3 separate regions of the Homo sapiens genome follow, and all the other regions are linked to region 1. Evidence: fine-mapped expression QTL. A gene starts in region 1. Each other region holds a variant in brackets. All regions are shown on one strand. Distances are from middle to middle.

Region 1 (8,191 bases):
CAGTGTTTTATTCTGTTCTCACGCTGCTATAAAGAACTGAACTACCAGAGACTGGGTAATTTATGAAGAAAAAAGGTTTAGTTGACTCACAGTACTGCAGGCTTAACAGGAAACATGACTGGGAAGCCTCAGGAAACTTAGAATCTTGGCGGAAGGCAAAGAGGAAGCAAGCATCTTCTTCACAATGTGGCAGGAAAAAGAGAGTGAAGTGGGAAGTGCTACACACTTTAAAACTATCAGATCTCATGAGAACTCACTCACTATCATGAGAGCAGCAAGGGGGAAATCCATCCCCATAATCCAATCACCTCCCACCAGGTCCCTCTTCCAATCTGACATGAGATTTGGGTGGGGACACAAATCCAAACCATATCACTCAGTGTGATAACCTTATCAATGTAAAGATAGAGTCAATATTCCCATAAGGAATAGATACATAGACTAGCAATGGAGCCGTTTTATTATAGGATTATTAGGAGTTGAGGTTGAGGCTTAACCAGCCCTTTCTATTGAAAGGCCCCTTTTCCTGGCCTTTCATTAAAAAAGAGAGAGAAAGGGAAGAGAGAACCTATGTCTCAGTTTGTAAATTTGTGAAGAACACCACAGCTGCTTAACAGCCTTCCTAGTGCATGGACATTTTCTTAGGCTTCTAAGATTACTTGGGGAAGCAACACTGAATGGCTGTTAAAATTCCTTAGGAATCATGGAAAACTAGAAGAGTTTCAAGTGACAGGCAAATGTCCAATTTTCTGAAGAAAAAAGACACCTTTTACCTCCTCCATGGTAAGCTCCATTTCATGTCTTCATTAGCAAAAGTCTAATAAGGATTTGTTAAAAGATGGTTTGAAAACATCTGTACAGGAAACATGCACCCTGCTAAAATCCAGCTCTCCAGAGCTTAACAAGTACCAAGCTGGGCCAGATCAGCACTGTTTCTTTTGGGGGTAGATTGCCAGTTGGATTGCTCAGGAGGTCATGTATTTGCATCTCAGCCAAGACTCCTAACACAAATTGATTTCTATTTTATTTCAGTGCCTGTTGTGTGCCAAGTCCTATGCTAAGCATTGAAAATTATCAAGCTAAAATGGCTCAGTTTTATGATAGCAAAAGTATTCTATTTTTCTCAATAGATGAACACATATGAAAGGTTGGAAATTCTGAAGTTAATAAAATTAATGGCTGATTTAATGTATTGAATACACATACCTAGTTCCTGAGGCAATGCCCCCCTAGGGAGTGGTCTTTCATGGCATTTATCCGGGCTCTTCCCTGTCCTATAAACACTCTAGCTACATTTTTATGGTGATGTTTATATATTTTTCATAAACCAAAAATGGTGAGAAAATGTTATTCATTGATGAACCTAGTCCAGAAAGATGATCCTTTTCTCTGACAAAGACCAAAATTGTGATAAATAGTAACAACAAAGTCTTATATTCTTTTCCCCTAATTAAAAAAAATCTACTTTTATATATGCATGTGTTAAAGATTTAGTATTATTGCATGGAATTTGAACCATAAACCATTGAAATATAAATAAGATAAATAAAATCTTCCTATCCAACAGATTGCTCCTTCTTTCCAAACAACAACACTGTCACCTACAACCACAACTGTACAACCACTGCAACCACAACCACACTAATCCAGGGAGGGGGCGTGTGGGGGAGCAGTAAAATGTGTACAGGATGACCAGAGCTCATTATTAAACCTCCATATATTTTGTTCTAACAAATCTTTTTTTTACCCCCACTAGCTTATGAACTCCTCAAAGTCAGGGCCTATATATTGTAACCTCAATATCTGATAAAATGCCTGGACCCTCAAAAGTCCACAATAAGCACTTCTGAAGATGTATTCCCCTCCCCTGCAGAAAACTTAGTTTGCTCTAATATTGCATTAATTATAGAATAGCATGTGTATTAAGTTTATATTGCTACTATAACAAATTGTCCCCAAAGTAATGGCTTAAAACAATACAGATTTGCTATCCCACAGTTCCAGAGGCCAGAAATTCCACAGGGATCTCACTGAGCTCAAATTTGTGGACAGGGCTCCATTCCTTCCTGAAGGCTCAAGGGGAGAATCTGTTTTCTTTCCTCTTCCTACTTCTAGATGCACTCTATATTCCTTGGCTTGTGGTCCCCTTCCTCTGTCTTGAAACCAGCAACTGTCTGACCCTTTTGCTGTGGTCACCTTTCTCTCTCTGGCCACTCCGCTAGGACAGGTTCCCGGGTTTTCATGTAAGGTTTCCTGTAATAAGATTGGGACCACTTGTGTAATCCAGGATATTGCCATGTAAAATAACATATTCATAGATTAGGATTAGGGCATGAACATTGTTGTGAGGCCATTATTACTCTTAGCCAGCATCCAGGTAAGAACGGCTAGAATATACCCAGAATATTTTACTATGTCTCACTTCAATCAAGCACTTGAAAATTGTAGGAAAAAACCAGAACGGAGAGGAGGAGGTCTGGAGTTATACCAATCTCAAGGCGTTTAAAGGAAGAGAGTGTTTGGCTTAGAAAAATATAGCTTAGACCTCTATATAGGGGTAGGGAAGGAGTGTGATTGATGAGGCGTGGGTGATGGCTATCTTTAAAATATCAGAAGGTTCTGTCACAGACAGAGGATTGAAACTTGTGCTTCACAATCTCAAAGGACAGAATAGAATAAATATCTGGAAACTCCTAGGATGCAGCTTTTGGCAGAAAATCAGGCAGAGCTATTATGGCTGTTACTGATGTCCTTAAATGCCACAGGCTGGAAATGTCATAGCTTGATGGTGTGGGAAGTCTTATAAAAAATATTTAAGCATTAGATGAGGGATTAGCTCAGATGACCCCTTAACTTAAATCTAATCCTTAATGATTGTGTAACATTCTATATGGCTTAGAATTCTATTCATGTTTTTTTTTGTTTGTTTGTTTTTTGTTTTTTTTGAGAGTTTTGCTCTTGTTGCCCAGGCTGGAGTGCAATGGCACGATCTCGGCTCACTGCAACCTCAACCTCCCGGGTTCAAGCGTTTCTTCTGTCTCAGCCTCCTGAGTAGCTGGGATTACAGGGGCCCGCCACCATGCCCAGCTAATTTTTTGTATTTTTAGTAGACATGGGGTTTCACCATGTTGGCTAGGCTCCTGGTCTCCACCCGCCTCGGCCTCCCAAAGTGCTGGGATTACAGGTGTGAGCCACCGCGCCTGGCCTTATTCATAGCTTTTGAATACCTCTGATTGCATATAGCTACATCCTAACAGGGCCCTTCATCTTTATTGAGAATCTTTTTGTTCTCACAGAATCCATTGTAAGGATCTATCCCATGCCACAAAAAAGAAGGCGTGAAGAAAGCTGGTAGAGTTGAGATGCCCCCTTGGAAGATTAAGTATTCCAGATTATTGTTGAGAATATAAAAACAATAACCAAAGGAACGGTGCAAGATTTTAAATGCACACAAATACTTAGAAAAATACTCTCCTCTGGCATATCAGACAGAAAAACAAAACAAACAAATAAGCTGTAAAGAGTTAAGCCTTGAAGAAAGTGTAGATTCATTGCTATTAGGTGGTCTGTGTGAGTATTAAGTATGATTCATATTTTGAGGAAGTGAGATATTTTAAAATGAAGGAAAAAGAAGTCGATCAGGTTATTTCATCTTAATTCAGGAAATAATACATTTTTGAGACTTTTTTCATCAGTCCACTTTGGGGATGATTATTTGGAATAACTTGTATAAGACTCATGAGGCTGCTGCAGAAAGTGTTGTTTTTATGTCACTAGTGTATGCTGCATAAAAGCTCTTCTTTATACTTTCAACAATTATGTTACCATGAACATTCTTGACCTTTTAAGTATACCTCTGAATGTTTAGATTATAAACGTGAACTGTACTGTGTTATGTTAGACTATTTGACCAAAAACGTATTTTCTACCACAAAAAAAGTCCAAAAGGAATTAAGTTAATTACAACTTCAATTGTGTTCAAGATCGGTCTTTGTGGTTCTTTATATCTGTGATTTATATATCTTCAAAGAGAGTCTTAAGTGTCTTTGGGATTGTAATGGGCATTCTAGACTAAGAGGAGCTTGTTCAGACACAAGATTTGGGGCCAATGCTTTCAATGACTTCATAACCATTCCATCTTCTTTCTACTTCTGTGGATTACCCAACAGCAATAATGATAATCTGAGCCAGTTCCTGATACTTCTCTCTATAGTCAAGAGAAGGTCAGCTATTTTTTGATCCCCATGGGAGAAAGACAGCTCCTCAATCACTATCTTAAAATAGCCAGCAATTCTCAGCTGCTGGGCTGGAGTTCCTCCAGGGGCGAGCAAAGGGAATATGAATCTGCCGGTGGGGCGTGAGCGAGAAGCCACCAAAACATGAGCTAGGACAGCCTTCTCAAGAAGATTCTGCCAACTCAAAAATATTATTCTTTTTTTTTTTTTTTTGCTGTTGTTTCTGAGAAACTAGGTGTCTTACCATTTTAAAATTTCATATTTTATTTAAAAGGAAACCAGTGAATTGAAAATGAGACTAAATATCGCTATCTTCTTTGGAGCTCTCTTTGGTGCTTTGGGGGTGTTACTCTTTTTGGTGGCTTTTGGATCGGATTATTGGCTTCTTGCAACTGAAGTGGGGAGATGTTCAGGTGAAAAGAATGTGAGTCTCTTCTTCAAAATAGTGATGCACATGGTAGTTATGAAGATACCCTTATGTATGCTCTTGAAATCAGAGAATAGTAGTGGAGTGTCTATTTCTTCATGGAAGAGATATGTAGAAAGCTACTGAGCTTCATTATTTGGGATAAAATACATGTCCTTAAAAATTTACTGGCTGTAATGATTTTGATTATATTTCTTGTATTGATGGCAAGTTACTTCATTTTGTTCTGTGCAGATAGAGAACGTCACTTTTCACCATGAAGGGTTCTTCTGGAGGTGTTGGTTTAATGGGATTGTGGAAGAGAATGACTCCAATATTTGGAAGTTCTGGTACAGTAAGTACAATTTAGCTTTATTTTCCCTCTTGTCTGTAAAATAAAAATGAACAGTTTCTTACATAGTATATGTCACTTCTAGCGGACTGGATTGTGAGTTACAAAATCTCAATTAGATGTCTTTAAAAGGTTCATCATGTAGAGATTCCTTTTCAGTAAGTAGACATGGCTATAGGAATAATTATTTTATCTTTTAGCATAAAACAGGAGTCTGAATATTTATGGCAAAACTGAATTATCCATTGTTTCACTGCTCCTGTTTAGAATACACTAACTCTAACAAACAGGACAGGTATTGTCTATAGCATTTTTTCAAGTGTGTGAATACTATGTTGCAAATAAATAAGATTTTTTTGCTATCAGCCCTTGAAATCTCAAATGTAAAAATCCATAAATAGAGATGTATTATTTTATATTCATAACTTCAAAGTTAACAGTATATTTTTTTTAAAAAAATCATGGAACTTAATTACCAGCCATGGCAGATGAAAGCTTATATTATTTGAGCTTTAACCAAGTTTGTTGGCACTATCAAGAAGTGCCTTGCTTTTGATGTTTGTGTTCTCATTGAAACTTTAAAGTTCTTTTTTAAGGTAGCATAACTTTTAAAAACTATAATGCATTTGTTCAACTCTATTCTTTATATTGAATTAATCTTTGAAAATCAATTTATTGAAAATAGCTAGCGCTTATTTCATTGTATTCAACAATGAAAGGGCTGTTTATTAGCCTAAAGCTTATTGAGAATTGAAATTATTAGTCTTCTTATCAAAAATCAAAGTATGGTATTTACATAATAGTCAGGATTATGGAATATTTAATAAAAATAGGAGGTCCCTGAAGACTTAAGCAAGCTGGTGATAAGTTGGCATATATAAGGAACAAAGTAGTGATGAAGCAGCGTTTTGAGGCAAGTACCTGATAGACTATCTTACAGTGGATTTGGGGGCAGGAGAATAAGCATACAACTTGCCAGTGGAAATGGTTTAGACTTTAGTAAAGGGAAGTAAGTCAGACTGTGCAAGAGGAAGATTTTGCCAAAGACTTGGAGAAAGAAAGAATATTTCAATATTTCAGTCCACCTTAAAGTGTACATATAAAAATTTTAAGTTCTCAGACAACATAAAAGTGCCTTCTTGTGATGTTTTCAAATATTAAAAATTTATTTGAATTATTGTATAACTTATCATTTGCATTCTTCCCTAAAATAAAATGGATATAGAAGAATTTTTTTATTAATTTGAACTAATCAAGGTTAAACTTAAGTTTATTAGATTTTTAAAACAATTATTTTTTATTCCCTACTGTGTGCTAGACACTGTTGGGTACTGGAGAGTATGTGAAAAAAGATGAAATGTGGTACCTTAAATCGTAAGGTGATATAAAGGGCATTTGCATTTATTCCATTGAATTATGTCATGTAGCTAGATGTTCTGGATGAATCCACCTTCGTCTCATGTGCATCTTGATATGAGTTTCCTAGAAGGCCTTCCTCCTCACAACAATTCGCTGAATTTGCTGATGGAACCAGTAGTTTTGTTTTGCTTGTGTAACCCTTGTGCTCTGTATTTCTGTTCCATTAAGGATGAGTCATGACTGAGCTTTTCAATAACAAGTGCCATTGTTTTGCTGTTCTTCCTAGCCAATCAGCCACCGTCCAAGAACTGCACACATGCTTACCTGTCTCCGTACCCCTTCATGAGAGGCGAGCACAACTCGACCTCCTATGACTCTGCAGTTAGTAAGTACCCTCTGTCCTCAGCCTACTTCTAAAAGGGTCTTATCTTTCTGAAGGATGCCCAGATCAAAATTGTTGTGAGCAATTAAAAAAATAATTTAAGACCTGTAATTTCAATATTTTTGATATCTGTTAGATTAAAAAATGTTATTTTTAATGTGCCATTTATAATTTTAAAGAACATAACTTTGATCTAAAAGTAAAGTCATTGTAATTTACTAGCTGCCTATAAAAGTATTTTTAAATGTGTTTTCCCATATGAAGATAGTAATATTTATTAAGAAGAACCGCTTCTTAAGGTTTTAACAGACCTAAAACGAGTCCTACAGTTGAGAATATTGTAATATACATCATACTTCTAAAACTTTATGTCATCATTACACATGAGAATATCACAGATAAATATATAATATGTATACAATAAATATATATGATATAAATATGTAATTATGCTACTATATTTATACAAAATGACTGAACTCTGTGTGTGTAATATCCCATAGGAGACAGACAGACAGATATCATTAACTTAAAATCACATTAAGAACATGAAATTTGTAATAACTTGCTAAGGGTTGATACAGACTATCAATGTCATATATAGAACAAAAAAGTGTTTTTCAAAAATAGTAGCTATTATATTTAATGTTCTCAATAAATTAATATTAGTCAGGGTTCTCCAGAAAAAAGAGAAACAATAGAACACATAAATATATATTATATACACACATACATGTATATACATATGCATGTGCACATACACATACACACATAGAGAGTGAGAGAGAGTGATTGTAAGGCCTGGTGAGTCTGAAATCTACAGGGCAATTGGCAGGCTGGAGATTCAGGTCAGAGCTGATGTTGCAATCTCCAGTCTGAAGGCTGGACACTCCAGTAGAATTTTTCTTCTGCAATCTGGAAGCTGACTTTCTTTTTCCTCAGGACACCTGTTTTTTCTCTTTAAATCTTCAACTGATTGGATGAGGCCCGCTCATAGTATGGGGTAGGGGGTAATCTGCTCTACTCAAAGTCAAGGGATTATAAAAGCTAATTGCATCTAAAAATACCTTCACAGCAATATTAAGCTGGTATTTGACCCAACAACTTGGCACCATAATCCAACCTAGTGGATATATAACAATAACCATCACAGAACTCAACACATCTTTACATGGAACTATTTTTCATCTTCCTGTTAAATATGTAATTCCATACATTATAATTTTTAGTTTTGTCAAAGAATGTAACATTTGCTTGTATTACATCATTAATAGGACACTTATAAAGAGGGTATGAGGTCTGGATAGGGAAAGAGGTGAGCTGACCCACAGCTGTGCTTGTCCACCAGGATTCCTTGGGTTCGAAGGACTGGGACCATTTTCCTTGAAAACATGTGTGGTATGGATGCTCCTTCCCATTAAAAACTGCAGAAGGCACCTCACTCACATTTGTCAAAA
Region 2 (8,191 bases), 350 kb after region 1:
GTTATCCTCTGGTAGTTTTATAGTTTTGTGTTTTATTTACACTTAGGTCTACAATCCATTTTGGGCTCATTTTGGGTAATGAATTATGTCAGCACCATTTCACATGAACGTCCAATTATTCCAGCATCGTTTGTCAGAAATAAGTTGGCTGTATCTGTGTTGGTCTATTTCTGGGCTCTGTTCAATTTACCTATGTATCTCTTCTTTGGCCAATACCATGCCTACTCCATAACTGTAGTTTACAGTAAGTCTTGAAATTGGGTTATATGAGTTCTATAATTTTTGCTTTTCCTTTAGGCTTTTTTGGTTATTCTGGTACCTTTGCCTTTCCATACACATATTAAATTCAGGTTGTCAAATTTAAAAAAAAGCTACGATTTTTGTCGAGATTCCATTGTAGATAATTTAGAAAGAATTGAATCCATGAACATGAAATATCTCTTCCATTTATTTAGTTCCTTATTTTTTTCAGAAGTGTTTTATAATTTTCTACATACAGATTCTTTGCATATTTTGTTAGATAAGATTTTTACCTAAGCACTTCAGTTTTGAGGTGCTACTTTAAATGGTAATTTTTACCATTTCAAATTCTAATTATTTATTGCTATATTTAGGAAAATTTATTGGCTTATGTATATTGATCTTATATACTGCAAGGTATTTTTTGTTTGTGTGTGTGCATTTTTTTCTGTTTTATCTTGCTTGATGTTTTTAAGCTTTTGGAAACTGATTTGGAGTTTGCCATTAATTCTGGAAAGTTTTAGTCACTACTATTTCAACTATTTCTTCTATCTATTCTCTTTTCTTCTCCTTTTGCTATGCCAAAAAAGTATATGCTACATCATTTTATATTGTTGATCTGTCTTTAGTTTTTAAAAATGTTTCTCACTCTTTTTTTCCCTTTAGTATTTCAGTTTGAGAAGTTTCAGTTTATTTCTTTCAAGTTCACTGATTATTTCTTTGGCTGCTTTATGTCTATCAATGAGCATCCATTGAAGGCTTTCCTAATTTCTGTTATTTTTTTATTTATATTATTTATTCTCTTATCTGGATGTAATTCATATGCTATAAATTCACTTTTAAAGTGTATGATTTAGTAATTTTTACTATATTTATCACACTCACTCTCTGCAAAAATATCCATACTCATTAGAAGCCACTCCCCATTTCCACTTCTTAGCAGCCCTTCCACTCATCAAAACAACTAACAATTGAATTTCTGTATATATGAATTTTCCTCTACTGGGCATTTTTATACATGGAATCATATAACATAGAGATATTTGCTAACTGACAAATTATCTCAATTTTTTGTTTATTTAGAAATGTCTTAATTTATCTTTTATAATTGAAGGACAGTTGTGCTGGCTGCAATGTTCTTGGTTAATGCTCTTTTTCTTTCAGCCTTTGAATATGTCTTCCCACTGCCTTCTTGCATTCATGATTTCTGATGAGAAATCCATTCATAATCTTACAGAGGAGTTCTTGTATATAATGATCAATTAAACTTGTCATACATGTCTCTGAGGCTCTGTTCATTTTTCTATTCTTTTATATTTCTGTTTCTCAGACTAGATAATCTCATTCGAACTCTTTCAAGTTCACTTATTTTTTTCCTTTGGGCTGCTCAAATCTGCTATGAGCTCTTCTCATGATTTATTTATTTTCTTTTTCATTTCCAGAATTTCCATTTGGTTCTTTTGAATAAATAATTTATATATTTTCATTGATATTTTAACATGATAAGACATTGCTTTCATAATTTTCTTTAGTTCTTTAGAAATGGTTTCTTTTAGTTGTTTGAACATATTCTAAATAACGGATTTAAAATATTTGTACCAGAACTCCAACATCTGGACTTCCCAAAAGAGTTTCTATTGACTGATTTTTTTCTTGCATATGTGCCACAGTTTTATGTGCCAAACTTTATTTCTTTTCATTTTTTTTTTGTTTTTTTAAACACATTTTAAGTAATATAATGTAGTAACTCTAAAAATCAGATTTTTCCCCTCTCCAGGGTTTGTTTTGTTGTAGTTTTTAAATTATTTATTTATTTAGACAGAGTTTCGCTCTTGTTGCCCAGGCTGGAGTGCAGTGGTGCAACCTCAGTTCACTGCAACCTCTGCCTCCCGGGTTCAAGTGTTTCTCCTGCCTCAGCCTCCAGAGTAGCTGGGACTACAGGCACCTGCCACCACGTCCTGCTAATTTTTCTATTTTCAGTAGAGACGGGGTTTCACCATGTTGGCCAAGATGTTCTCGATCTCCTGACCTTTTCATCTGACCACCTCAGCCTCCCCAAAGTGCTGGGATTATAGGTGTGAGCCACCACGCTCGGCCTGTTGTAGTTTTCTGCTTATTAAGTTTTCTGAACTAATTTTTTAAAGTCTGTGTTATTTGTCATTTGTGGCCACTGATGTCTCTGCTCAGTTATTTCAGTAGCCAGCTAATGGCTGTACAGAAGTTATTTTAAATTCCTGAGACCAATTAATCTTCAGTCATTGTTAAATGGTTCTCTCTCTCTCACTTGCCATGGGTGTGTGTGTGCATGTGCACATGTGTGTGTTAGGTGTTGGGATACTCAATCAGGCAACTACAGGCATGCACCACCACACCCAGCTAATTTTTTGTATTTTTAGTAGAAACAGGGATTCACCATGTTGGCCACGGTGGTATCAAACTCCTGACCTCAGATGATCCTCCTGCCTCAGCCTCCAAAAATGCTGGGATTACAGGCATAAGCCACCACGCCCTGAAAAAGATAAATTTGGATATACCATTTCAGTTGAAACCAGTAGCTTCAATAATGTGATACATTTCCCTGCGTGGATTATTCAATGAATACAGCAATATTACCAAATGTAGTCTCAAAATAACTTTTGGTAGTAATATGGGAGTATAAGTACGCACTTAATAGGTGAAAACCTAAAAGGAGGTTCAAAATTTGGATTAGTATTCTAGTATGTTTATCAATAATTGCTTATTAATAATTTAATTGCATCTCTGTATAGTGATGTCATAGCATCCACATATTTATACCAGATATTTTTCATATTAGTGTAATATCTTTATAAATAAAACAGGATGATTGACAGCTCATTTTATCAGTCTGTTTCGCTGGATTCTTTCCTCTGTCATCACCCAAACTTTGGTGTTCCAGACTTTCCCTCCATAAGCACTAATGTTGAAATGCTTTTCAAGGCTCAGTTTCCTTCATGCTTTCTAATGGTCTATTGGCCAAAGCAAGTAACATAGCTGAGCCTAGATTTAATGGGTGGAGAAATACACTGACTGCACCATTTTATGAGAAAAGTGGCAACATCAACTTGCAAGGTGTACATACAGGAACAGGGGAAGTTTGCAGCCATTTTGTGAGCTGCTATATTCATTTCGCAGGCATAGTACTTTTTACAGTATTTGATTCAGGAAGCACTCAGTAATTACTTGCTGCCTAACTGACTGATTGAATAAAAGTAGGCATTCATATTTCAAATTGAAGAATGACTATATTTACAATTACTTTTCTTCTTTTTTGAAAAAAAAAATTGCTGCCTTGAAATGGTAACATGCTTAAAAGTGACTTTAAGTTCTGGCTGTTCATTCTTATTTGAGATTAAGAAATGCAATAAAATGCATCCATATTTCATCAAGGCAAAGTGTTAAAAATAGACTACTTAACAGACTTTTGCAGGTTAGAGGTTTTAAACATCCAAATGATGAGGAGAAAACAACTTCAGCATTTTGTTAGTACGAGTAAAAATGGAATATATAGTATCAACATGAAGATATTTTTTCTCTTTTGAAAAGGAACAGATAGGATGGCATATGCTTTTCTAAATGTGGAGCTTCTCAGTGCTGAGTTCAACCAGCACAACAGTAGCAATTAGATGACTCAGCTTCAAAAACGCTCCCTAACTACACTATGCAAAGTCAGGTGGTCTAGAATGGTAGTCAGTGAAAATTTTAGTTATCATACTATTTATTTGAGATGATTTTTACTAGGTATCTAGGTCAGCTTGATTTTCTAGCTTTGTTGCTAGAAAAGTCATGATGGATTTTTTTTAACTTGTTCTTGATGGCCCAGAAATTAAAAGATTGTGGGTCCTAGCATCTTTGATAGATGCAACAGTTGGTTTAACAAAAAATTTTTATAAAATTGCTCCTTAGAAAAGGTAATTTAAAAACATGAACTCAAATTTGTTTGTGAAACTAGTATTGTCAGAGTTGATTAATTGTGACCCTCACATATAAAGGATTCCAGTCTTTAGACATATTTATGGAAGCTGCCATGAGCTTAGTGTTTCTTGGTTCCATTATTAGGTTTCACAGATTTGGATACAAATGGCTAGTTTCATACTTGATCTTACTGTTCTAATTACTTCACTC[A/G]TTTCTCTCATTCATCAACTCTTCTGCCTGGAGGTCAAAATGGGACCAGTTACTAATCAAGGCCAATGGCAACCATGGCTACATTGAGGCGCCATGTTTCATCTGTCAAGGGGCATCTATCACTCCTCTCCTTGTCAAAAAGAAAATTAAATTAGACTAACACGAATTTCTATTTTTGCCCCGATTAAAGGCCTGCATCTTCCCTAGGCATTGCCTGACACAATCTTGACTTGAGAGAGACTCGATGTTCTTATAACATCATTTGAAGAGTGCATGCTTGTCTCCCTGGGTTATTATTCTTCAGATTCACTTGTTTTTCATGGACTATAGGCTAGATAATCTAGACATCCTTTGGGGTGTTAATTAAGAAGAGTATCCAAAATTAATCAACAGACTCACTAGGGCGAAGGGGAGCTGTCTGAGGACCTTGGAATATAACACGCTTCTGGTGCAGAGAAACGAGCCTTCGGCTATTGACAAAAAGCAAACAAGTGCACAGACGGCAATGTGACATAAAAATTTATATATATATGCAAGTATACACTCATTTTTCTTGTCAGCTTGTCAACTTTAATTATAAAGGTTGATTTGCTGTTTGGCAGATCTCAACATTGTAGATGATGACAATTTGAAAAGCATCATATGGTCAATGTCTTAGAAGAACAATGGGATAGAAAGGTAATGGATGAGTGATGTGTTTAAAGTCCATACTGAGCACAAAAATGATTGCACTGTAGCCTAATTGTAAAAATTCTGTCATCTCTTCAGGAAAGAGAATATATTTTACCTATAACAGAATATTGATAATTGATTAAAACTACTGATTTAAAAGGTACATTTCCCCAATCATTATCCCTTATTCTTTTTATAAAGTTTCTTAGTTTACTCTAATATACTTGTATGTATTGGATATTAAAGGTTTAGAACTTGTAGCTAAAAGTAACCTTTTTAGCAAATCCTTGGTTTTGATCATAACAAATTAACTTCAGATCTATAACAAGCATTGTTATTTCACTTCCAACATTACAGAATCAAATAACACTTATCTGTGCTTATTTAGTTAATGAAGTTTTAGTATTTCTCAGCTATCTGCTAACTCGCACAGCAAAGGAATCTTTGCTGCCAAATTAAAGGGTGATGGATTCTTATTATGTAACTTCGAATTTCAACATGTTTTCCAAAGTCAGGAGATTGGGGACAACTGTTTTCACCTTTTAGCATTTCCAAATGCCCTTTGCCAGACGATAGGTTTAGAGTGCTTATATTCTTTAAAGATGGATACACCTTCAAACCCTAGTTTTGCCTCTAGTGGGTAAGAAATGAAGAAGCCACTGACTGGTCCTAATAAGTAATGTTTGAAACCTGAGTTATGCATACTTGTCTTGAGGTTTGGACTGAAACTCTCATAGGTACAACTTGCAAGGCAAGATTGGTACAACCTCCAAATTGGTGAGATTATTTTCCTACAAAAAGTAAGTAGTTTCTTACCTTAAAGCAACACCCTAACTTAGGTTTGACAAGAAATGAAATAAAAGCAATTAAGGGAAATTATTTTGTGCACTTTTTCAGGGCAATCAAACATGCATTCCAAGAGCCCAATTACATATCTTAGCAATCTAATTCATTATTGCCTATCTATCTAGCAGCATGATTATATAATTTATTTCTAATAGACAACATCCGTATAAAGGCTACAAAATATTCCTACTTGATTGTGTACATGAAGAACATTCTAGCAAATTATGTTTCTTGATTCATTTTTTATTTAATCTTCTTAATATTTGTAAAACAATTTTACAAGCACCCACATGATTTAATGTCAAGAAACTTGTTATTGACAAGATAGGAGTTTATGAAATAATCAGAAACTTCGGTGATTAATTTGAAGGACACAGTACAATTTTTTTTGGCTGTGATTTTTGATTGGATGTAATGAGTAAAGTTTTGAAATGGGAAGATTTTAAGCTTTTATAACATATTCTTTTTCAAATATGATATTCTGATATTAGTAACAAAAATAACTTAATCATAGTCATACTTGTTTCAACTATTTCTTAGGATAATTGATAGTTTAATGGCTTGTTAAATATTTTTCCCATAAACCATGCTCAAATTTCTTCCTTTTATCTTTACTTTGAAAAACAGATTCATCTGACTAAGCACATTATGTGTTAGATTATTACTTCTTACTCATCCGCTTTAAAGCATAATCTCATGATCAGATCAATTATACCCAGATTCCTTTGGGCTCACATTTGCTTTCATTCAACAAATCATTACTGACTCTCAACGTGCATGCTGTCATAAAAGTTACATTTTAGGGGACACATCATTTTTCTGTAGTAATATAAACTATCATTTAAAAATATATTTTAGTAAAGATGCATAGTCATAAAGGAAGTGGATCATTTAGCTGATACGTCTTTGGGATCTACTTAGCTACTTAACTAAATCAAAGCCATTGTTCCTTAGGTCAACCTTGTCAGTTTCTAGTTCATCTCATTTCCATCCGAGGCTGCTCTATGGGTAACATGGAAGAGCAGAGAATGGCGTCTACTTCCAAAGGAAGAAAGGGCATATTCACCACTTTGAATATCTCCTTAACTACCTCTGAGTTAACATAAGTTAACTCTTTTTGGAGGTGTAAACTGTGACCATAAAAAAGAAAGTAGTATGATCAATTGTATGTAGCACATCAGAATTCATATATCTAAACAGCTACACAAACAACATGTCAACCTGAGAACAAAACATAAGAGATACTGAAACTTTCCAGGAAATATAACAGGATGGAGAAAATTGTGTTTACCAGAAGCCCTAATATGTTTGTTTCAGTTGGGAAGAATAAATCTCTTGTGATTGAATGGAGGATGTTGACATGTTACAGAATCCATGATCTTGTCCAATGAATGGTCACCAGCTGTCATCTAAGGAGGGCTGGTTCTGTTTACCATGAAACTTTCTTTTGCTAAATAGACAAACAGTGCTGAGATGAGGAAAAGAGGAGAACTTTCCCATGAAGTGCCAATACCATCTCTAAATAAATACTGAAGAATTACTTAAAGTTACTGTTAAACTTTCCATTGTGCCAACTCATCTGTTTATCTGGGCTCTCAAGGCCTTTCAAATGTGTGCCACTGTTCAAAGAAATCTTTTTGGAAATTTTCTTTGGAGATTCCTCTTAGAGTTAGTTGTACATTCTTTAAAACATTTTCATTGATAACAAATGTATATTTGAGTGTGAATTAAATTCATTTTAAACAGTGAAATGTCATTTAATCTTGGTAAATAAATGTAATAACCAGGCTAACTGATTCTCTTCTGAGTCAAAAATACACTGTAACTATAGCATGACAAGGCTACAGATAATATATAAAACCACATCCAAAAAAAAAAAAATAGGGCTTTCAATGTGTTCTGAGCAAAAGCCTTATTACAGAAAGTGTATGATCTGCCAAAAAGTTTATTGTTAGGACAGTATTTACTTTTATTTTAGGTTCTGATTGGTTTATTTAGTAGATAATCATATTTTATATTGACATTGTACTTAGATTTATAGAAAATATAAATATATTTCCAATAAAATAGATCTAGAGGGTTATTTTGTATATTTCATGAAATAGTCACTATAGACATTGCCTGAAGATTTCTGACCAATGATCTATGATTCAAAAAAGAAACTGAAGAAGCAATTTTAGAACAATTGTTTTATGTAGCTTTAGTAAGTTTAAGGAGTATTCTAACAAGAAATAGAACAACCTGAAAATACAGATAGCACGAAAAATAATTAGATACATTCAATTATAAA
Region 3 (8,191 bases), 88 kb after region 1:
ACCAGCCTGGCCAACCTGGTGAAACCCCATCTCTACTAAAAATACAAAAAATTAGCCGGGCATGGTAGCACATGCCTGTAATCGCAGCTACTCGGGAGGCTGAGGCAGGAGAATCATTTGAACCTGGGAGGCAGAGGTTGCAGTGAGCCGGGATCACGCCACTGCACTCCAGCCTGGGTGACAGAGCAAGACTCCATCTCAAAATAAATGAATAATAAATAATAAATAACTCCATTGCCCACTAGCACCAGACATTGGATATCTGCTTAATTTTCCCGTATCCCAGTTTTTTCACCTGTACAGTGGGTATTATTATAGTTCCTAATTCTTCAGGACTACTGTAAGGGTTAGAAAAAATGATACATGTTCACTTCACTGTTTAGAATAGTCTGAGCACGTTGTAAACAATCAATAAATTGCAGTGATGATTGCCCTTACCTTTTTGCATCTCTCCGTGTATCTACAATTGCCTGCTCACTTGGAGAAAGACACTTCCTCCTGGAAGCCTCCTATGACAACTGACCCCCTCCCAGTACCTTCCTGTGAGGCATGTTGGCTGTCCCTCCTGTCGCTTTCTGTAAAGCTGTGTATGTTCTCTATAGAGTGCAAGCTCCTGTCACATATATTTATTCAGGACCTCCTATGTGCCAAGCACATGGGGCATAGCAGTGGAAATGACAGGCACCCCGGCCCTGCTGGAACTCACCATCCAGTGAGAGTGGTGTTTAGTTATTCAACAACTACTCTTGTTCAACAATACATATTGAAAAGTCAGGAATTGTAAGGAGATTTTTGGGGCACTTCACCTTCTTAGAAGTGGGGTTACCGAGCAGCTAACAGAGGCTTGAGGAAAAAGCAGGAGCTGGCCAGTTGCATTGATGGGGGGGTTTCTAGGCAGAGGGACTAGAAGATGCTGAAGCCCTGAATTAGAAAGGCATGGACGGGGAGGAGGTCATAATCTTGCCTGCGTTTCTTCCCCCTGGGCAGAGACTGGTCCCATCTGGGGTGTGAGTGTGAAGGCGGGCAGTGGGGTGAGAGCTGAGTGGGCCCTGCCTGTTGGCTGGGCTTAGCTGCTGCTCTCACAGGCTTACTTTTCCCTGGGCACTTTGAGGGAATAGAGTCAGCTGGATCCTCACAACCTTGGTATGATTCACGCCCATTTTTAAATGAGGGAAACTGAGAGATGAAATAAGTTATTCTGGTAACCAAGTTAGTAATTTAATGAGAGGCCAGTGGAAGTCTCTCTGCATGAGTATATGATCAGAGATGAAGACTTCCCTGAAATCTGTGAAGCAAAACCAGCTCTCCTCTTTTGGGTAAGAGAAATGGTAATTACGGGAAAATTGAAAAGTATCCAATGATTTTTCAGCACTTTTTAATCCCCTGAAGTGATCGTCTCGATTCAGAAACAAAACACTTGATTAACAAGGAGGGTTACCACTGCCCCGAACATATTTGGTATGTTTATTTACGTTCCACCCCACCCACTCCCAAGCAAAACAAACAAACAAACAAACAAAAAACAGAACATCAAAAACTAATACAAATCTTTGGAGAAAATATCTCGAACTTTTTGTAAATGAATGGTTACACTATGGGCAGAGTTGTCACTCTTGAAATTCAAGCCGGAAAATCAAAGCAGATTGGTGCCCAATTTTATGAGAATGCTCTGATTTTCTTCATTTCCTGAGCATATAAACAATATCTTATTGTGTGAGTGCTACTCTTTTGGAATTTAGATACAGAATATCAACTTGACTTTCAGAATGCAGATACTATGTTGTATCATTATCAACAATAATGATGTTTTCCTTCAAGTACTAGAGACATATATTTACATGTGTCCAAGGAATGAGCTTTAAAAAAAGAGAAGTAGACATTTCATATACTGGCTATCTTTCCATGTCATAGAAATGAATGAAGGGGAAATATATAAATTAGAGAGTATAAAGTGTTTCACTGAGAAAAGCCTTTAATCAGAGAGGACAAAATGGATTTCTAATATTGCTAGGCTTATAAAGTGGAATTGTGAATGCTTTGGTTAATAAAGTTGTTACTACTTCGAAAGCCAAGTTTTTGGTAGGATTTGAGGCCTAGTTATTTACAGCAATACACATGACATTTGTAACAACTAATATGGTAAATATGTGTGTCTCTGTGTGTGAAGAGAAAGGTGATATGCTCATGAAACTGCCACAAGGTAGATTTAAAAAAGCAATATTTTTATATATTAGGTTAGTGCAAAAGTAATTGCAGGTTTTGCTATTGAAAGTAATGACAAAAACTGCAATTACTTTTGCACCAACCTTTATATAGTATTTTACTTAACTTAGAGTCATCAATCATTTCCCCTGCAACTTAGCAAAGAAACTTTATTGTAGATATTTTCAAATACTGTATTTTGGCCTAAAGAACAAGAAAAGAACCCCCCCAATGTGCTCATCCTCCACATTCAACAGGTTATCAACATTCTTCCAGTCTCCTTTCATCTATTCCAGCCCCACTGTTTTCTGGGATACTTTAAAGCAAATCCCTGATACTACATCATTTCACCAATGGATACTCTCTATCTCATAGCTAAAACCCTTCCCCCATTGTAAAAATTAATCTCGATACCATTATTGGCAAAATTAACAATAATTTCTTAATGTCATCTAATTACCCAGGTCTTAACCAATTGTCCAACATTGGCTCGAAGGTAACTTTTAATCGTGGTTTGTTTGAATCAAGACCCATAAAAGATCCATACATTGAGTGCATTTCATTGATCTATTAGGTAGTCTTGAAATAAATAGTGACCCTCTCCTGCCTGTCTTTCTACTTACTACCTCCGTTTCATTCTTTTTTCTTTCCTAACATCAGTTTGTTCAAATCAGCAGGTTATGTCCTGAAGATTGGCACATTCTGGATTTGGCTGGTGGGATCCTCCAGAGTCATTTAGAGTGCAAACTTATGATACATCTGAGACTTCATTAGATTCTTATCATCAGCAGGGAAACTTCCTAGGAGATTTTTTTTATTTTATTTTAATAAATCTCTCCCAGGAAAGACCACCCGGTGGCAGTGTTAGGCACAACTTTTCCTTGGGTGAGTCTCCTCAATGCCAGGGACCTTGCCCCTCCCCTGAGTTCTCTATTTTCCCGGTGCCTGCCAGCCACACCAGCGCCTGCGCATGCGCATGCGGAAGGACTAGCTTCCAGCCCGGGGGCCGCTCTGCCTGCCGGGGAGCCGCTCCCTGGGTCCACTGGGACCTGGAGTGGGCGTGACTGACGGCTTTGCCTGCCTGGCTGCAGAAATCACTGGCTCTGCTTTGGATTCATTGGTTTAAAAGTATAAGACAGTTTTTTGAGGATGAAAAACTGAGGGTTTTCCATTTGAGTTAAAATAAGCAGTAAGATTTGCAGAATGTTCCATACAGCAGCCAATTCGATAGAAATTGATGGCAGCCCGAGTTGTTATTTCAGCCACGACCCCCTTTCCTGCTTCCTCACAAAAGATAACCACCAATTCTGTTACTTTAACCTTCAATCTCTGAGACACTTTCAGTGCTCATTTTTTCATCCAAATGTCAGGAAAGTCTTGGAACAGTCATCTACATCTTTCCGACACTGCCTCCTTGGAGATCAAAACAGTGACCGGCACAGCACGGGGACAATGTTTGCTTAGAAGTGTAGTCTACATTAAGGCTGTGGCACCAAATTACTAAATCACACTTAACCTCAGTTTATTCATTTGTAGAATGCCAACAACAATCACTAAGTAATAAGGACTAAAGGAGCGAATTGCTGTACCTGTCATATAGTCGTTGTTCAATTAGCATTAACATAAAAGCAAGGAAACTCAACTTAATTAGATTGGGTCTTCAGAGCTGGAATTCGGCTAATTTCTTGCCATTTTAAAATTT[G/GA]AGTCATCACACTGAATGAGAGGCCTGGCCTTGGAATGATGGAGTAGGGCCACGTGTGTACTTTTGCAAAATTAATGAGGATAAATTAATTCACTAGTAGGTGACTAGTGCACACTGAAGCTCTAAGCTGGATATCTGAAATTTGTTAGTTAAAATTAAGTAAGAGCTATTTTACCTGGAGTATTTCCTTCCTTGTAATTTAAAATTAAACCTTCAGCCAAAGCAAGTAACTTTAATTTAAATGAATTTCAAACTCTACTCTTGCGATTCTATTTCTCTCTGTGTCTTTCTGCCTGTATAGTCATTGTGCATTAGAGCATCTTTGCTGATGAGGTCAGTTTGCTAAAACGATTTATTTTCTTAACAATTTTGAGTATATTATTTAGACCATTTAAACGGCTTTTAGGGAAATTACTGACAAGCATATTTAAATTCAGAGCCAGGTCACTATAAAGAAGAAAAAGTGGAAGAAGATAAACACCCTCATTCAACATCCAGAAGCCATAATTGTGGTCATGAATAATCGTGTATTCCTCTAATAAATTATTAGATTGTAAGCCAATATATTTTGTACAAAATCATCTTAAACATTTCCAGAAGTAAAAATTCAAAAAAAAAAATCAATCATATGGTTCTTTCTGTCACATTTTGGGTATGAACTAATTTATTTGATGATATATCAATGATGAGAAGAAAACAGGAATATTTAAGAAATTAATGATATAGTGCCATGAGTACTTTGCCAACCACTTAAAAATAAGAAGCCAAAATATTAATGGTATAAAATATGTTTATATACATTCAGAATTTTAATGAGATTCTCTTGATATGTTGTGAGTTAAATGCCAAATTCATCTGCACTTAAGCAGATCATACAGGTATTGAGAATGTGGGTAACATGTATGAAGGCAAATTTAAAACACACATTCCTCAGCTGAAAAGGTAAAATCATTAGAGATTATTTAGTGTGTGTCCAGAGAAACACAAAGTTAAGACATTTTATGGTTAGCTGAAAAATGCTGTGGTGATTTTTCCATAGACACCCTCCCTCCCCATTTCGGCTCTTGCTAGATGATTCTCATTTCTACACTGTAATTTCCAGCTTATCCTAAATATAGACTCTGGATTTCAGCCATCCTAATTAAACTGTGAAGTTCTTTTGTAGTGAGCTCTGATGCTTTGGAAATCAATTTCCAAGCTTACACAAGCAGTGTGTGTCACCTTTTTGGTTTTCTTCCCCTTTATGAATTTATCTGGAGATGGTAAATTTCAAATACTATTTTAGTGGCACATTTGTTCCATTTTTTTGGTCCAGGCTGTTAAAAAATAGTAATAATTATAAACTTCCTTCTGTTTTATAGAGATTAATTCATTCTTTCAAAAGTTTCCCACCTTAAAGTACCTATCCCCTTTCCGCACAAAGTCTTTATAGTATAAATAAAGAAAGTGAGATTAAATTGTTTTTCCTAAGGCTATTTGGAGAAACAAGTATGGGATTCTTTTCTGTTACACAAAATTCATGTTTTTTCTGGACACACAGCTGTTAGAGATAATGGGATCTTCACTAAGGGAATAGAAAGTGAGAATCAAACACAAACATTTCAGTACAAGCCACTCTACAGGATAAGGCTAAAAGCTGGTGTGCGGAATCTTGGGTGTTGGCTCAGGAGTACCTGTGTCTTGACAGTGCTCCTCCAGAGCCGGCCTGGCCCCGAGACTGCACCGAGGAGCTGCATGGACTCTGAGAGCTCACCTTCTGTGACAATGTGCACACCTTTCCCATCCTGCCTTCTGCCCTTGGAGAGCAGCCGGCTGCAGTCCCTGGGCTGGGATGATTGGAGACGAAGTTTTCTCTGACTGCAACTTTGAGCAGGGACTAAGACAATGAAAATTCCATAGGAAGGTTGCAAACTATTTTTTAACAAAACCCAGATGTCTATATCCTTTGAAGGTTCAGTTTGAGAGTAATTTTACAAGGACTCTGGTTTGTCTTTTGGCTTCAACTTGCGGAATGTGATTTTACTAGAAGTCTTCATGACTGTTGTGAGGTGGTTGTAGTGGTGGCTTTCCTTTTAAGTTGTCTTGGAAAGGCAGAAACACCTGAAATAGTCAGTGTGTTTGTCCCAGGGCTTAGGAGGTCAAGGAGCAAAAATCAAGCACTCTATGAGCTACAGTTGGACTCAAAGTGTTTTGCAACCCTGGCTACACATTAGAATACTCGTATGAGTCTTCTGAAATAGATGTTAAGTACCTGGGTTTCACATGCTGACCAACTATATCAGTTTCTTTGGGTTGGGCCAAATGTATGAGTAGGCTTTTAAAATTCCCCAGGTGATTTTAATTTGCAGTCTGTGTTGTAGATCAGAGTACTGGTTCCAAACATCGATGTCCACAGCCATGGGGAGCTCTATAGATCTCCAGGTATGTCACAGAAGCCTAAACATTACTTTTAATATGCTTTATTTGAGACAAAGTAGTTACTACTTTAGATAGCAATTTTGGAGGGTAGATCAACCAGGAAGGAGGCAATGAGAGGAAAATAAATGAAGTACTCAACAGAATGATGCTTCCGTTCTAAAAAGGCAGGGATAATGATTTAGAGGGTTAAGTTTCCTCTATATGGGTCTAAGTTATGAAAAAATATATAAAAGAAAGTTTGGTTTAAAAAGATAGAAGTTATAACAAATGTGCTATGCAACATTCTTTTTTCGGTTGATCTCACACTAAGATAAAAATGTTACATTTTGCTACTAGATATATGCTATTATAATACTGTCAAGTTAGCATAATGGATTTTGCCTACAAAACGGTCCAGTCTTGAGCTAAGATTTAGCAGATTGATACACTTTAAGAAGAAGGAACATTTTCCGGTTCTCATTGTCAGTGTAAAGCAGTAGTTCTCAAACTTAAAACAGAATCATCTGGAACTTGTTAAAACACAGATTTATGGGGCTCACACCAAGAGTTTCTGATTCAGTGGTTCTGGGTGGGACCCAAGAATTGCATTTTTAACAATTTGTGAATGATGCTGATACTACTGGTCTGGTGGTCACACTTTGAGAAGCACCGGTCAAAAGCATTAGAATAGTCATTCATAGGTTCATTTTACGTAGTACATGTCTTGGCTCAGGTTCTCTAGAAATAGAACCTGAGGCAAAAGCTTATATGTGAATGCTTTATTGGAGTATGCAAGCCCTGGGAAGCTTGTGTGAGGGAAAAGGAACATGAAGTCCAGAAGGAGGGCAAACAGATCTGAGGGTGTGTTATGGTGCTGTGGAGCTGACCTGGAGAGAGAAAGAAAAAAGAATTTACCTACCACCTCTCTCAGATGTTCCCTCCACTTCCAAGCTGTGTCTCCTTCCTGTCCAGTTAGTCACTGGAGAAGCCAAGCTCCATAGATATAATCTTGCCAGAGGGCAGTTGGCATGTGCATGGGATCCTAGGTCTACAGGCTTGGCAGCAAGACTCTGCAAAGCACCAGCCTCTGGGAGGGTAGCTTTTTCCATAAAGGAAAACAAGAGCCCCCACCCAGAGTAGCATATAAACTGACCCTGGTAAACGATCAGTGCTTCTCAAATTATTTGCTGTGAAAAATATGGTTTTAAAATTGCCACTGGTTCATAGATCCTTGCCCCACTGTGTCCTCTTGTGCCTGACAGCATGCAGTGCCACATGTGATGTGACTCAGTACATTGGCTCAGCAACACCCAGATCAGCCTAAATCTTGTTCATGCAAGGGAGTCCACTGCTCACATACACAGATGTCATGGCAACGTCAAGTTGCTGTGAAGATTTGCAAATACTGACTCTCAACTGTTTTTCTGCCCCTTTCTCTTCATGAACTGATAACAATTAGCAGACCGGGTTGTCTGCAGACCACTCTTTGGAGAGTGCAAGTGTATTAGTTCGTTTTCACACTGCCAATAAAGACATACCCGAGACTGGGCAATTTACTAAAAAGGTTTAATGGACTTACAGTTCCATGTGGCTGGGGAAGCCTCACAATCATGGTGGAAGGCAAGGAAGAGCAAGTCATGTCTCACATGGAGAGCAGCAGGGAAAGAAAGAGGGCTTGTGCAGGGCAACTCCCTGTTTCAAAACCATCAGATTGGCCGGGCACAGTGGCTGGTGCCTGTAATCCCACACTTTGGTAGGCCGAGGTGGGTGGATCACCTGAGGTCAGGAGTTTGAGACCAGCCTGGTCAACATGGTGAAACCTTGTCTCTACTAAAAATACAAAAATTAGCTTGGCATGGTGGTGAGTGCCTGTAATCCCAGCTACTTGGG

Alleles and levels. Alleles are on the strand shown, and positions count from the first base shown. SD is a standard deviation of normalised expression in the study named. Not every link is listed here.
With allele G in place of GA in region 3, the expression in left ventricle of the gene that starts at base 4,341 in region 1 is higher (small effect, 0.21 SD a copy in GTEx).

The links. PIP is the estimated chance that this variant, and not a neighbour inherited with it, causes the effect. A credible set is the group of variants that fine-mapping cannot tell apart.
Region 2: its variant is the best candidate, but not a certain one, in a credible set for the expression of TMEM182 in atrial appendage (GTEx, PIP 0.64).
Region 3: its variant is the best candidate, but not a certain one, in a credible set for the expression of TMEM182 in left ventricle (GTEx, PIP 0.54).

Annotation. Positions count from the first base shown.
Region 1 is chr2:102,757,691-102,765,881 of GRCh38, forward strand. It overlaps TMEM182 (transmembrane protein 182), which reads left to right and starts at 4,341. Exons shown (of 5, transcript NM_144632.5): 1 at 4,341-4,659; 2 at 4,897-4,996; 3 at 6,639-6,737. The coding sequence starts at 4,528.
Region 2 is chr2:103,107,329-103,115,519 of GRCh38, forward strand. No RefSeq gene overlaps it. Among named protein-coding and RNA genes, the nearest start is that of LINC01935, 130 kb to the left of the region's middle. The variant A/G (reference allele first, on the strand shown) is at 4,384.
Region 3 is chr2:102,845,461-102,853,651 of GRCh38, forward strand. No RefSeq gene overlaps it. Among named protein-coding and RNA genes, the nearest start is that of LINC01796, 46 kb to the right of the region's middle. The variant G/GA (reference allele first, on the strand shown) is at 3,905.